Linked DNA regions of Homo sapiens: region 1 is linked to region 2. Evidence: fine-mapped expression QTL. A gene starts in region 2. The other region holds a variant in brackets. All regions are shown on one strand. Distances are between the middles of the regions.

Region 1 (8,135 bases), 330 kb after region 2:
CCGGCCACTGCCCTCCAGTCTGGGTGACAAGAGTGAGACTCCATCTTAAAAAAATAAAATAAAATTAGAGACAGACACAAGGGAATTTGTTCATTCATTCATTCGTTTACTTCACTAATATTTATTGTGTTTCTTTCCATGCCAGGAACCACTGTGTTAGGTATAATTATGGTGGTTGAGCAATAAGAGCTTGTATTTGTGGAGCACGTATTATGTGTTAAGTATGATCTCATTTAATTCCATCAGATAGGAACCAATCCTATTATTATTATTATTATTCTACAGAGAAGGAAAATATAGATTAGTGAAGCTAAATGGCTGCCCAAAGTCAGTGTAGCTAATAAGCAGCAGATCTTGAGTCTGACACTAAAGCCCCTAAGTTTGTATAAAGGGCTACATTGCCACTTAAAGCAAGTAAAGTCCTTATTCTCATGGAGTTTGCATTCTAGTGGGGGAGACAGTCAATTGAAAATAGAGGCATAAGTATACACATAAATAAGCAAGATCATTTCAAATAGCAGTAAGAGCTCAAGAAAATATAAAATGGAGTGATGCGCAAGGCAGAGACAAGGTGGAGGTGCCGGGAAGATCCCCCACCCCAGTTGAACACTTGTAATGGCTGAACCAACTCTCTTTGAGCCTAGTTGTTTCATCTGAAGGCAGGAACCTGGACAAGAGGTTCCTTCTGTAGCTCATTTCATTCCACAGTGGCATGGGCAGCATGGGCTGCCATTTACAACTCGTATTCTTCTTCTGTGTTCTGACATATGGAGTTTTTCCAACCCAGACAGAGCTAGGCCACTAGATATGAGCAGACTCAGATGCTACCTAAATAAAAAGTTACCTTTGTCCTTAAGCAAATAATCCTACACAGGACACTCAGATATGGCAGTAAACAAATGTCTAAGTGTTTCATGGAAAATACTAAAACACTCAACTGGTGGGCAGTGTTACCTTCCAAGTGACATTTGGCAATATCTAGAGGCTTCTGGGGTTGTCACAAACTGGGGGAAGAATGCTACTGACATCTAATGGGTAGAGGCCAGGGAAACTGCTGAACATCATACCATTCACAGGGCAGCCCCCTACAATAAATAATTATCTAGCCCAAAATTTCACTACTGGGAAATCTCATGCTACAGTGAGGTAGAGAGATAATAGATAGATAGACAGATAGGTGATAGATAGACTGCCATCCTCATTTTCTGGTAACTTTCTCTACCTCCAAAATCTGCCCCAAATTGATGGAGACAAGAGCTTTCAACAATTTTTTACTAAAACTTTCCATCAAAAGTCCAACCCAAAAAGCAGGGTCAGGAAGCCTCCCACATTTAAAACGATCTCACACAGCCATCAGAGAAAGAGAAGGACTCCCTCAAAGATGTTGAGAGAGAGAGACAATGTCTAAATCTTTACTTGTGTAAAATTGATAATACAAAACATATCTCTATTAGGTTCTTTCTTAATTGAAACAATGCTTTCTTTCATCCCTGCCAGGAAGAAGAAAAATCATGTTTCCAGCTTGGGCTGCTGTTTCATCTGTTGGACTTGCTTGTGAGCTAAGCCAAATTTCATTAAAAATTATTGGTCTCATAACTTTTTTTGTTTTTCCCTTTAAAGAGTCCCATATGGAACCAATATTGTGATAGGATTGTAGCTGCATAAAGTCATTGGGCATTTTGACCCACTCTCTGCTTCTTGGTAGATTCTAAGTACAGATCTAATTATTTTTTCCTTCAAGTATTAAGCGAATATCTCTGCAAACAAATCCAAATTTAGAAAGCTAGATTGAAGAAATGGAGAAGCAAATCTAGTCAACTCATAGAAATCTTTCTTCTCCTCTCTTGCTCTGTCTCCAAGAGAACCTCTACACCTTCTTTTAAGGTGCCAGCCATCTTAAGCTCTTGTCTGATTAAGAAATTCTCTGGTAGAACCAGAGCATCTGCAAAAGCATAAAATATGATCACAGCCTTTGCACAAGTATTTTAACAACCCAACCTTATGATAGGTTATATTTCATTGACTTGGAAGAAACACTGCATTATCTGGGAAAACAGCACAGATGTTGCCTAATAAACGTTTTGGTTTATGCATTGTATTAACCTCATGAAACATTTATGCAAATCTCACATTAACAAAAGGTAAAAGAACCATTCTATGTTATGAAGCATACAACAGGATGATCTTTGTCATGTTTTTGTTTCTGTTGTTGTTGTTTCACCTTGGTATTTTATGGGTCTGTTTGTAACTCTTGGAGTTTCTATTTAGGAGGACACAAGAGCATTGCAGATTTTCATCTCTTCTGTTTTCAGTTCTGTTATCATCCCTTCCAGCTGACTTCACATTTTATGATGCTAATGGGGGGTGTGTGGTTTTGAGTTTCTCTCCTGTCAGCTGGTCAGTGGGTCTGAGGGATATATTTAATAGAATCTGACAGCTGATGGAACTGGCCTCATTGAAAGAGGATTTGATATGTGGAGTGAATGTGGCGACCCTGAAATCGCCATAATAACGGCCATTATTATTCTGCCTCTCGCAGCCAATATAACTCTCCCTCTTGTACACACCAGTACATGTGTATAAAAGACATGACTTATGGATGGTTTCTTCCGTACACTGATCTGAGGGCCATTTAGATAGCATGTCAAAACAGATTAACTGTCTTATCCTGCCACAAAATTAAGGGGGGGAAAGAGAACTTTACACAACTCTGCCCAACATATGCACTCTGTGCCCATAAACAAAGCCAGCACAGAAGGGCCACAGATTGTCTCTGGGTGGGGGTTAAGAGAATCAGGCACCCAGAAAAGCTGCAGGCTCACCCACTTAAGGTGCCCGCTCCAGTGAGGACCCAAGGGCACTGCCTGAGATATGGTGAGGGCAGCTGGAGCCACAGGTAGGAACCTACCTCCTGAAAGGCTGGTGCTATGCTTTACCTGTGTGCATGTGCCTGGGATGTTGGGGTGGGTGTTGGCCCACCTCGGCCCTGCTGAACTGGACTCGCTGTTGAAATCAACATCTCAACCTGCATCCTGGCAACCTGAAACAGCCACATTCTCTGCCAAACCTGCCTGCCTACTGGTTACTAAAGTTCGTTAACACGTATCGTGTGCTTGTTCCATGCTAAATTTTACCTGTAGAGACCCTTTTAATCTTCCCAAGAACCCTAAACTGTAGATATTATTATTATTAATTATGATTATCACCTCCATTTTACATATGAAGAAACTGAGAGAAAGGTAAACTAAGTAACTGGTCTCAAGTCAGAGCTAATAATTGATGGAGTCAGGATGGAATCTCAGGCCGTCAGAGCCCATTGCCATAACAGTGACTGTCCTCTTCTGCTTCTGTTTGTCCCCCAGCCAACAAGAAGTATGTGTGAGTGTGTGTCTGCATACGTGGGCATATGCACGTATAAAAATTCTTAGACACAAATGTTCCCCTAGAAATCATCTGGCCACCCCCTTAGTTGCAGCCAAATCCCCACTCAATCAAGAAAGTTACTGTGTTTTTTCCTCTGTAAACCGGGCACCTCCCATCCCATGGGCTGGCACAAAGACAAGGGGGAGAACCTGTGTGCACCTAGCATAGCCCCAGGCCTGGGAGGTTGGCCGGGAAGCACTCACCTCTCCTGTCCTTCATTTCCAACCTCAGAAACCCACCCCTGTTCCCTGCCTCCTGTCAACGAGCTGACCTCCCCATCTTCAGCCATGCAACACCGCTGTCTGAGGTTATCATTTCAGGCAATGATATCAGAAGCAGTTGATTCCACATTTCCGAAAATAATCCTTTTATTTATCCACTGTCATCTTCCGGCGCAAAAAACAAAGAAAAGGAAAATGGTTGCAGAGAAGCCAGCCGATGTGTCCGGGGTACCTGAGGAAAGCAGGCCAGATGCTAGGAGATATCCTTGTGGCTGTCAGTGTTTAAATTACATAGAGCTGGTACTTTTTAGGTCAGAAGCATAAAACCTACTATTGATCTTGAGCAATGCATCCAATTTTGAATGTCTGTTAAAGCCCCAGGCACTTCAATGCCACATAATCAATATTTCTTTTCATTCGTTCTTTCTTTTTTTGTTGTAGAAAGCGTATGGGTTTGTTTACCCTTCCTGCAGGCATCCAACCTGGCCTTTTATTCCTGCTCAAGTAGGACATGCAGCCTGCTGGGGACCCGTGGCTCAAATCCTCCAACTGCAGGACTGCCGGCCCTGGGACTCATGAATAATGGAAGTGCAGTAACCACTCCTTACAGCCCAGACGACTTTCCAGGAGCAGGCTGTACCCCGAAAGTAAACAAGGAACAAGGGGCAAGGAGACAGAGAGAGATGGGGAAATGTGAGATCATGTTTAACTCATTGTAGACCCTAAGATAAGACAGTACGTGCAATCTTGAAATTTAGAGTAGAAAAGGGCCTGGGAGATTATCTGGGAGAAACATTCCCTTTCAATTTGCAGATGGAAAAACTGGCCAAGGCTCCTTATGCCTGGGTTGTTGAAATGGTCCAGGGAACATGAGCTGGGCCATATGGAATATGGGTTAAGCTTTGATCTCTATTAAGAAAAGGGTTTCGGGTCGACCAGATGACCATAGCAGTCTTTCTATTCTGACTCTGAGGACAACCTAGTAAGCAGGTCAACCAGGTAGGCTGGTGTGATTCAAAGCTACAAGGCCATTGCATCCCTGACTAAAGGCCTGGTGGCTA[T/C]GTCTGTGGTGGTGGTTTTGAAGAAGTGTATTCTTCTACGGGCTGCTACATAGACTTGGCCTTGAAGGATGAAGAGCACAGAGAAGTAAAACTGGTGAGGGGTAAGGGGTGGGGACAGAGGTAAGAAGACAAAATGACAAGTGGTGCAAAGACAGAAGTGAGAAGCAGCATGGTGCATTGATGGACTTGCAAATGGTTCACACGAGCAGCAGAGCAGAGGGTGTGGAGGCAGCAAGAGAGACAGCATCACAGGAGCCTGGCCGTGCCCTGCACTGAGGAGTTTTCAACTCTTGGCTTTGAAGCCTTTTGAATCAGGCAGTGATACAATCAGTGTTGCACTGGAGAAAGTTCATGTTGGCTGGAGGGCAAAGGATGGATTGCAGGAAGCAAGACTGGGGTCAGGGAGCCAGACAGCAGATTACTCCAGAGGCCAGGCAGACCCTGATGATGGCCAAACCAGAAAGGAGCAGGTCGGGGGATGGGTTTCTCATATTCACAGGGAGGCTCTGCAGGATTGGAGGAGGGTCTGGACAGATAAAGTGATGGGAAAAATCACAGTGGCAGGCAGGGTCACTTAAAAATTTTAGCACTACATGTGAATCGTTGTGGTTTACTGTGTGACTTTTGACAAGTCACTTAACTTCTCTGAGCTTCAGTTTCCTTACCTATAATGTGAGAATAACATGGGGATTTCATGATTAAATGAGGTAATACATGAAAATGTTTTCCATAGTGCCCACCATGTAGTAAACCTTCATTGTTTAGAAGGTGACACCTGACTTCTATTATATTATTGACCATGTGGAGAGTGTCCAATGAGACATGATGTGTTTTGAAGTAGCATCACCTTTTTTTTTTTTTTTGACAGAGACTCCCTCTGTCACCCAGGCTGGAGTGTAGTAGCATGATCTTGGCTCACTGTAACCTCTGCCCCCTTGGTTCAAGTGATTCTTCTGCCTCAGCCTCCTGAGTAGCTGGGTCTACAAGATCACACCACCATGCCTGGCTAATTTTTGTATTTTTAGTAGAAGTAGCATCATTTTTAACCCAGTCTTGAAATAGATAGCTTGAGTCATAAGCTGTTTCCAGGAAGCACGCTGGAGTTACTTCTCTAGTGCGGGAAGACAACAACATAAGCACATACCTATCTATCTCCCAGATTCCCCAGAAAATGACCAACTGTATATAAAAATAAGAAAAAACTTATCCATACTGGATATTAGCAAAGGGTGGTATTTATAGGCCAGGAGGTCTGAGGAACATCTGTTAGATACACGGCAGATGGGCCAGATTGAAGAATTCATTATTTCCACAATGGGAAGGAGTGGTCTGTTTGATAGAAATTTCAAAACTGTCTTTGCAGATCCTCACCAACAGCCCTGCTGCAGTGAAAACTGGAGGTGAGAGTGGGCTAAAGCCTCTAAAACTGGTCAGTGCCATGGATAAGTGGCCATGGTGCCAGGGGCACAGTGAAGGGGACCCCCAGACCAGACCAGCAATTCCTTGGGACTAAACTCTGAAGCCAACTTCCACCAGGCCTGGGTCAGGGCACAGCCCCAGCAGACTGCTGGTGGCTGAGCTTTAGTAGACATGAATTCTCATTTTCCCAGCATCCCAGATCCTCTTACCCTAGTAATGACTCTGATTTTGAACTTGGAGTCAACCCTTCTCTTCATTCTGAGTCCACATGGTCTGGAAGGATCTCCAGGATGAGGTTCTTGACTCAGGTCTGGTCAATCCAGCACTAAATGGACCTTGACACAGTGATTGATTCAGGAATGGTCTCACCACCCAGGGTGGTCCAATCAGAAAGGCTCTCAAAAGTTTAGTGGGAGTCCACAATAAGATATGACTGCACAACACAAGCATGGCTACAGCCAAATAGAGAGATCTCAACAAGACTGGCAAGGAAGTGGAGAAACTGAACCCTTAGACACTGCTGATGTGAGTGTAAAATAGTATAGCTGCTTTGGAAAACAGCCAGTTTCTCAAAAGGTGAACTGTGTCACCCAGCAATTCCACTCTTCAATACCTACCCTAGAGAAATGAAACCAAATGTTCACATAATGCACACAAATGATCCCAGCAGCACTGTAATAAACAAAAGGTGGAAACAAACCAAGTATCTTTCAACCAGTGAATGTATAAACAAAATGTGATGAATCCATACAATGGAGTATTATTCAGCCATGAAAAGAAATAAGATTCAGGCACACGCTGCAACATAGGTGAGCCTCTCAATCATCATGCAAAGTAAAAAAAGCCTAGTGCAAAAGACCACGTATTGTATGAAATGTCCGGAACAGGCAAATCCATAGAGACAGAGAGTGGATTCATGGTTACCTAGGGCTGGGAGAAAGGAGGATGGGGAGTGACTGCTCATGGGAATGGGGTTTCTTTTTGAGGTGATGAATTTTTTTTTAAATTGATTGTGCTGATGGTTGTATAATTCCATGAATATACTAAAATCACTGAATTTTACTTTAAGTGAGTGAACTGTATGGTATGTAAATTACATCTCAATAAAGCTCTTATTAATTTAAAAAAATGTTTAGTGGAAACCAAGGGAAAGATCCAAGCTCTATGCTGTTGGAATTGAGCTGATGGGAGGAGGAGGGGTGAGGCTGGAGCTGTTGTAGCCACTTTATCACCCAGAAGTTTTAGGGGCCACTACAGTGAGCCCAAGAATCAATCTAACACAGCAGGAAGCACACGGAAGCGATAGAAACTGGATTGTCAAGGATGTTGTTTTGACTTTAAATTCAGCTCTACTTGAAACCAGAACTACTCCTCGGTTTCCCTTCCTCAGTTACCTCCCTCTAAGTTGGGCTTTGTGTTCACAATAGAAAGACCCCCAGTGCAAATACCAAACACTGAAAACACTCCTTGAGCAGGGAGTCCAAACTTCCTGCCACCACTCCCGTTCAGGCTGACCTCCTTACCCTGGCCTCTTCTAGCTTCCTCTTCTTCCTTCAGCATCTAGATCTTCGAATCAGCCAAAGAGAACTCCATCCAGTTTAATCCATTCCATTCTCCCATCGTCGTGGCCTGAATTATTCACACAGGGAACCGCACAATCTCTGACAGAACTCCTAGCAATGGGTTAGTGAAGAGAAGCAAAGAAAAGTCACAGGCGCATGAGAAGACAGAACTGTTCACAACAAGGAGGACCACAGGTGCCTCCCAACTGAATTGAGTTACTGCAAGACGCAAGAGAAAATTTTCCAAGTCTGTTAATTCAAGTTGTCAGAAGGAATCAAGAACAAACTGTGGCTTCCATTTTCAGAAAGCGATTCGAGTTTATCTGTTTACTTCCCTTGCCTCTCCAAACCTTATTATAACCAAATTAAAAAACAAAAAATGAAAAGAAAGAAAGAAAATCTCTATCAGCACTAGAAACTAAGCCATGGATAACCTAGAAACTTGAGTA
Region 2 (8,135 bases):
ACACAGAAGAATTTTAAAAGTCCAGTTAAAATCCGATCCTAACTTGTCTTTTAGATGTTTCAATGCATATATTCACACATATCTATTACAGAATTTTTGTATAAAGTATGAGGTAGTAGTCCAAATTCATTTCTTTTGCACGTGGATATCTAGTTTTCCCAGCACCATGTGTTAAAGAGATCATTTTTCCCCTTTGAATTATCTTGGCATCCTTGTTAAAAAACAACCTACTCTTTAAATTTAGCCTTATATTCTTTCTACACAAAGCATTTGGCAGCCCAACTGTTTTTCATTGAGATATAATTCACATACCATAAAACTCACCCTTTTAAGGTGTGTAATTCACTGGTTTTTAGTCCATTCACAAGGTTGTGTAACCATCACCATGATCTAATTCCGGAATATTTTCATCATGCAAAAACAAAACAAAACAAAACAAAACAAAAACCAAACCTCATGCCCACTAGCAGTCACTCCTCATTCCTCCCTCCTCTCAGTTCCTGGCAACCAACAAATCTACTTTCTGTCTTCATGGGTTTGCCTATTCCGGACATTGCATGTAAACGGACTTACACAATAGATGTCATTTTGTGACTGGCTTCTTTCACTTAGCATAATGTTTTCAAGGTTCATTTATGTTGTAGCATTTATCAGTACTTTGTTTTTTTCACAGCTGAATAATATTCCATTGCACAGATAGATCACATTTTCTTTATCCATTCATCAGCTGAGGGACATTTAGTTTGCTTCCACTTTTTCCTCTTATGAATAATGTTGCTATGAACATTTGTGTACAAGCATTTGTGTGCATATATGCTTCAATTCTGTTGAGTATACCTAGGAGTAGAATTGCTGGATCATATGGTAACACCATGTTTAACTTTATGAAGAACCCACAAACTATTTTCCACAGTGGCTTCACCACTTTACGCTCTAACCACCAATGTATGAGGCTTCCAGTTTCTCCACATTATTTCCAGCACTTGTTTTCTGTCCTTTGGACTAAGGGCACCTTTGTGAGTGTAAAGTGGTATCTTATGGTGGCTTTGATTCACATTTCCCTAACAATTAATGATGTTGAGCGTCTTTTCATGTGCTTGTTGGCTACTTACATACGTTCTCTGAACATTTTCAAATCCTTTGCTCATTTAAAAAGTTGTTTGTTATTGAGTTTCAGGAGTCCTTTATATATTCTGGATATGAGTCGTGACTATTTTCTCCCATTCCGTTGGTTGTCTTTTTACTTTCTTGATCATGTCTTTCAAAGCACAAAAGCTTGGAATTTTGATAAAGTCCAACTTATCTATTTTTTTCTTTGGTTGTTTGTGCTTTAGGTGTCAAATCTGAGAAATCATTGCTTCATCCAAGGTCACAAAGATTTTCACCTATGTTTTCTTCTAAGATTTTTATATTTTAAATCTTGCATTTGGGACTTTGATCCATTTTGGGTTAATTTTTGTATAAGGCCTGAAGGAGGAATCCAAATTCAGTTCTTTTGCATGTGGACATCTAGTTTTCCCAGCACCATTTGTTAAAAAGACCACTTTTTTCCCCCTGAATCATCTTGGCATCCTCGTTCAAAAAAGAGTCTACTTTATAAATTTAGCCTTATATATTCTAGGCAGCTTTCTATCTGATAAACATACTTATAGCATCTTTAAAAAATAAATATCTATTGAAATATGACAAGCATAAAGGAAAATATAAATATCATGTGTTTAACTTGGTCAGTTTCACAATGTATTTGCATCAATGCAACCACTATTCAGAGTAAAAATAGGAGATTACTGGCACCCCAGAAGTCCCCTTCACTCCTCCCCTAGTCACTACCTCCAACTTTCTCCCCAGTGGTAGCCTCTATCTTGGCTCCTACCTGTAATGCAGTTTTGCCTGCTTTTGAACTTTATAGAAAGGATACCATTCCGTATGCACGCTCTTGCACTCAGCCTGTTTCACCCAACATTATGTCTGTGAGGCTGCAGTTCTCGTGGGGGTACAGTGATTCATTTATTTTCATTGGTTATTAGAACCACAGCATTATTTTTAGTATATTCACTCAACAAAGATTTATTGCATGCCAGGTCCTGTTCTAGGCCTTGGGAGAAGGCAAGGGACAAAGCAAAAATTCCCTGTTCCCTTGGAGCTCATGCTGTCTTGGGTGAGAGACCAACAACAAAGACAATAAATAAGTAGAATACATAATGTGTTGTGTGCAGATAAGCGCTATGGAGAAAAATACAAAATAAAGCAGGAGAGAAGGGATTGGAGGGTGTTGCAGCTGTACACCGAATAGTTAGGGAAGGCCTTGCCGAGAAAGTCATATGGAAGCAAAGACCCAAAGGAGAGGAAGGAGGGAGCCAGGTAGATTTCTAAAGAAAGAGCATTCCAGGCACAGCAAAGGCAAAGGCCTGAGTGTAACTGCAGGTTTGGCATATTTGAGGAACAGCCAGGAGGCCAGTGTAGCTGGAGCAGAGTGAGTAAGATGAGAGTGTAAGAGGTGGGCAGAGAGGGTGCCAGAGGCCAAACAGCAATTGTAAGGACCTTGGCTTTTACTTTGGGATGGGAGCCATCAACAGAAGAGTTTCAGCAGAGGAGTGATAGAATTTGACTTAAAACAGCAACAACGACAACAACAGCAAAACCAACAGACTCACTCTGGCTGCTGGATTGAAGAAGGGCTGTAGATGGAGGCGTGGAGAATGGCCAGGAACTCCTGCTATCACCCAGGTGAGAGATGATGGAGATGTGGACCCAGGTGGTAATGGTGCATATGGCAAAAATGGGCTGCAGCTTGGAAATATTTGAAGGCCAAGCTGAAAAATTTGCTCCCAGATTGGATAGTGGGGCTGAGAGAAGATGGGTCGGGTTAAGTGTTCTAGGTTCAGATGTTCTGTCAGTTTTCTTAATTAATTTTCTGTTACTGGGCATTAGGGAGGTTTCTAGCTTCTCACTGCTGTAGGCAAGATGGTGGTGAACATCCTTGTAGATGGTTCTGTGCGCTGCCCAGAATGAATTTTCTAGGGTAGATTCAGTCCTTCTAATGCAGCATTTTCCAACCTTGGCTGACTGTGCACCACCTGCACAGGTATTTACTTGAAAGCGGTATGGGGTAGTGGTTAGAGCATTCATCTGTGCCAGAGGCCTGGGGCAAATCCCCATCTCTGGTGCCAGAGGAAAGGGGGCATCTCGAGGCTGGGGAGGCCCCTGGCAGGAGTGAGAAGTCCTGAGGAGCCCGGGCTTCAGGTCTCAGAGGGGGCCACTGTTTTTTGAGTACCTTCCTCTCTGTGGGACTCAGTTTCCCCATCTTCACCATGCCAGTGAGTGGGTGGGTGTAAGTGAGCGAGTCTGCCTGGAGGATCCTACTGCTGCTCTCTGCACCTCTTAGGGGAATCTCCTGCCTCCTCCTTCTCCCTTGGTGGGCGTGAGATCAAAGTTCAAATGTGTACCTCAGTTTCTGCATCTATAAGTTAGAGGCAATAATAGTCAATACCCTAGAGGTGGAAGTAACTGAGTTACTGTCTGTAAAGACTAGCACATGGTAAACACTTTCTAGATGCCAGTTATTTTCGTTATTTTTAAAAATTGACTTCACATTTTTTAAAACAACCAAATATGAGTTTCAAAAGGAACATTTACATTAACATGTTAAATGGAAAACCGGTGTCATTTGCTCCGGAGAACAGAAGAATGTAAAATAAAATATATTTAATGGAAACAAAAACAATGCTATTAAAGCTAATTAGATAGTTTCAGAGCCAAGTAATCTAGGCAGTGCTAGAAAGGTACTCAAACCCTATTAGTACTAAACTGAGAAATAAACTCCATTCAACATAAACGGAAAAACTGAAAGGAAAATGAAAAAAAAGAACCTTAAATGACCAGTCCACTCTTACCTAACATGTAACCTGTCACACTCTGGAAAAGTTTTCCTAGTTTTGGCTGTGTGTGCGTGTGTGTGTGTGTGTGTGTTGGGAAGTGAGGCGTGTGTTGGGAAGCGATGTGTGTGTTGGGAAGCGATGTGTGTGTGTTGGGAAGTGGGGTGTGTGTATATTGGGAAGCATGTTTGTGTGTGTTGGGAAGCGGTGTGTGTGTTGGGAAGTGGTGTGTGTGGGGTGTGGTGTGTGTGTGTTGGGAAGTGGTGTGTGTGTGGGGTGTGTGTATGTGCACGTGTGTGTTGGGAAGCAGTGTGTGTGGGGTGTGTGTGTGTTGGGAAAGCAGGGAGTGTAGTGTGTGTTTGTGTTGGAAAGTGGTGTGTGTGTGGGGTGTGTGTGTGTGTGCACGTGTGTGTTGGGAAGCGGTGTGTGTGGGGTGTATGTGTTGGGAAAGCAGGGTGTGTGTGTGTTGGGAAGTGGTGTGTGTGTGAGTGTTGGGAAGCAGGGTGTGTGTGTTGGAAGTAGGGGGTGTATGTGTATCGGGAAGCATGTTTGTGGTGGGGGGAAGCAGGGCGTGTGTGTGTGTGTATGTGAGTGTTGGGAAGCAAGGTATGTGTGTTGGGGGAAGCGAGGGCTGTGTGTGTATTGGGAAGCATGTTTGTGTGTGGGGGGAAGCGAGGGCTGTGTGTGTGTATTGGGAAACATGTTTGCGTGTGGGGGGGAAGCAGGGCGTGTGTGTGTGTTGCGAAGCGGTGTGTGTGTGGTGTGTGTGTGTGCGCGTGTGTGCTGGGAAGCGGTGTGTGTGGTGTGTGGTGTGTGTGTGTGTGTATGTGTATGTGTTGGGAAGCGGGTTGTTCCGAGGACTCCCCGATTCCCTCCTGGTTGAAACGTGGCCCAGAAAGAGAGGCACACTGGCTAGGGCACACAGCCAGGGCCGTCCAGCCCCGCAGGAAGCCCCGGTCCTGCCCTGTCCCAGGTAAGCCTGGCCAGCCCTGGAGCCGGCGCTGCGGGGCTGCGGGGCTGCGGGGCTGCGGGGCCACGGGACAGGAGCGGGTGCTGCGGTCCCGGCAGAGCAGGGGCGGGGTCCGGGCGGGGGCGGAGCCGAGCGCCCGCGCACCCGGAGCCGCAGCCCGAGCCGGAGCCGGAGCCGGGAGTCGTGGCCCGGAGTGGGCCTTGGAGTCGGCGCGCAGGCGGCTCGCGGTGAGTGCTGTGCCCAGCGCCTGGGGGTGGGCTGGGGGGAGACTGTGGGCGCCGAGGGTCCCACCCCCGGGACTTGAACACTTGGCTTCTGAGCCGTCCTGGCCGCAGGGCTTGGGCAAGGGTTGCCTCGGTTTCTCCTGGGGGAGTCCCAGAATGTAGATGGGAAGTGAGACGGAAAGGGGGCATCTCGAGGTTGGGGAGGCCCCTGGGCCACTCTTTTGATTTCCTTCCTCTCTGTGGGACTCAGTTTCCCCAGCTTCACCATGCCAGTGAGTGGGTGGGTATAAGTGAGAGAGTCTGCCTGGAGGATCCTGCTGCTGCTCTCTGTACCTCTTATGGGAATCTCCTGCCTCCTCCTTCTCCCTTGTTGGGTGTGAGATCTAAGTTCAAATCCATCCCTTCCCAGACAGCCCACACCAGGACCTGCGAGGCCACATCCCCCAGCTGTTTGCTCTCCTATGCTTCTCAGGTTGATGGAGCAGCCATCTGGTCCTGCTTTCATTCCAACAAACTGAAAAGCCCTCCACCCCAATCCCCCTGGGGAGGACCTCCTGAAGCTGCATGAGGGCTGGGGGCTGGACCCCTGCTTCTGAGTTTGCTCTTTCTGAGCCTCTCCTGCCATGGCCTTGGTTTCCCCATGGGCTGTGACCTAGCCTCCTCCAGGGTCCTTGTTCTACAGAGGGGAAACACCTGCCCTGTCACCCTCCCCTGACCCCTTAGTGAAAAAGACCAGAGTGACATCCCCACCACCTGTACTTGCCTGTCCCGATCACTCAGCCATGGGGCTGCTGGGGCCCCTGAGTTTGTTGGCTGCTCAAGGCCCCTTTGCCTCGCTGCACCCTGGGATCTGAGGCTGGAAGCATCCTCATCCAGCCCACCTCCCTCCTACCCAGTGCAGAGCCCCTCTGTGACACATGCCCAGTGGTGGGGAGCTTATTACTGATGAGGTGGCTTTTTAGTGCCTTGCAGCTCTTGTTTCCTTTAGCTAAAATCTGTGGCTTACAGATTCTACACCTTGGTTCCATGTCTGTCTCCCGGAGCCATGCAGAGCAAGTCAGTTCTTTCATTCTTTCCAGCAGTCATCATTCATGCACTGGATGAGACACGAGACAGAGCAGTAGGAAAATCAGACAAAACCCCCTGCCCTCATGGAGTGCACACTCTAGAAAGGAATGGACAGCAATGAAATAAGTAAATACATGGCGTAGCAGGTGGCGGGAAGTACTACGAGTAAAACAAAGCTGGGAAGCAGGATGGGGTGCTGGGGCTGGGTATTGCATTGTATATAGCACAACCAGGGAAGGCTTCCCCAAGACCACGATAGCTGGGCAAAGTCATAAGGAATTGAGGGGTGAGCCACATGAGTATCTGGGGGGCTGGGAGGCTTTGGTTTTCACTCTGAGCATGATGGGAGCACGGGTTTGGAACAGAGGAGTCACCTGCTTTGACTTGGGGTCTGGCAGGCCCATCTAGCTGTGGGGTGGAGAATGGATCATGGGGGGGGTGGGGTAAGGGCAGAAGGAGAGCCCGTTGAGCGGATCATTGCTGTCATTCTCGGGAGAGACCATGGTGTCTTGCCCATGGCCCAGAGGTGGTTAAAAAAAAGAAAACCAGACATTCAGATTTGGGATATATTTCAAAGGCCGTGTCGATAGGGTTTGGGGTGCAAGAGAAAGGTAGAGTCAAAGATGATTCTGAGTGTTTGGCTCGAGCTTCTGGAGGTTTGAAGCTGCCATGAACTGAAATGGGAGTTGCTTAGCGGAGAGATCAAGAGTTTGGTTTTGTGCTTGTGGAGTTTGAGCTGCCCATTAGGCATCAATGATGAGTAAGCAGTTGGGAAAAGTTAAGGGCGGAGGTTGGAGTTGAAAATAAAACTTTGGGCATCATCACCATATAACTGGTATTTAAAGCCACAAGAGCAGGTGGGCTCATCTAGGGATGGAGTGATATGGAGAAGAGAAGGGGTCTAACCATTGAGTGCTGGGGCCCCCAGTGTTAGGAACCAGCCAAGAAGACAGAAAGAGTGAAAATCAGAGAGTTGGGGTGTCCTGGAGGAAATGAAGAAAATGCCCCAAAGAGGAAGGAGGGAACAAATATGACCAATGCCCCTGGCAGAGCAAGCAGGCTGAGGGCTGAGGATTGAGCAATGGGAGGTCACTGGTGACAGTTTCACTGGAGCTGGATGGGGAACTAGAGGGAATGGGAGGGGATGGGAGGACTTGGGGACAGCAGTACAGGCAACAGACAAGGGGGCCTGCTGTAAAGGGAGCAGATAAATGGGATTGGAGCCAAATGAAGAAGGGGAGTGTCAAGAGAGTGCTTTACTTTTACAATGGAGAATTAGAGTGCATTGTGCACTGGTGGGGGGATTTGATCTCTTAGGGAGAGAACAGTGTTAGGGAGGGAGAATGCAGGATAGCTGGGGGAGGGTGGGGGGCTTGGCCCCAGCAGAGACTCAGGACACTTGGGAAGTTGAGCTTCCCTGGGCTTCCCCTCCTCTCCTGTCTGCAAGGGGTCAGTGGGCTGAGATTTCAGCACTTAAGCAAAGCATTTGCTCTTGGCCCCAGAGAAACCGGGCTGGCTGTGGTCTCAGGAAGGAAGGAGGTGTCCAGGCTCAGGCCTGGGCCTGGGTTTCAGGGAGGGCCCACGTGGGTCGCCCCTTGACCCTCTCTTTCAGCAAGGAAGTGATCCTTTCTCTACATGGGCCTCACCTTGGGGAGGACAATGGTGTCTTTGAAGTTGTAGTAACTGAAGTAGAGATCAAAAGGCAATGCAGATAGACTGACAGATTTCGCCTGAAGAGGGGAAGCCCGACCAGGTAATAAAGGAGTAAGAGGAAGGATGTTAAGGACAATTTTAGGAAACAGATAATGAGTGAATATTTTTTCTCTCTCTTTCCCAATTTAAACTGAAGCAGGAGAAACTGAAGCTAGACATAATGATTAACTTCCCAAGCTGGTGAGCTTCCTGAGCTGGTTAGTGAGAACAGCACTAAGGCCAGGTTCTCCTCCCCAGATGTTTAAGATGAGACAGGACAATGCCTGCTCAGAGACAGGGCCTGGC

What was found.
Region 1: its variant is fine-mapped to the expression of NOD2 in cerebellum (GTEx, PIP above 0.99).

Annotation. Positions count from the first base shown.
Region 1 is chr16:51,020,723-51,028,857 of GRCh38, forward strand. It overlaps LINC02127 (long intergenic non-protein coding RNA 2127), which reads left to right. Exons shown (of 3, transcript NR_110913.1): 2 at 1,498-1,554. It overlaps LOC107984903 (a long non-coding RNA gene), which reads right to left. Exons shown (of 3, transcript XR_001752172.2): 3 at 3,774-7,797. Among named protein-coding and RNA genes, the nearest start is that of LINC02127, 7.0 kb to the left of the region's middle. RefSeq lists an enhancer at 1,678-2,959. The variant T/C (reference allele first, on the strand shown) is at 4,706.
Region 2 is chr16:50,688,591-50,696,725 of GRCh38, forward strand. NOD2 (nucleotide binding oligomerization domain containing 2) reads left to right here and starts at 5,016. Exons shown (of 12, transcript NM_001370466.1): 1 at 5,016-5,072. RefSeq lists a silencer at 4,736-5,245 and enhancers at 5,616-5,665, 5,906-5,985, 7,890-7,939.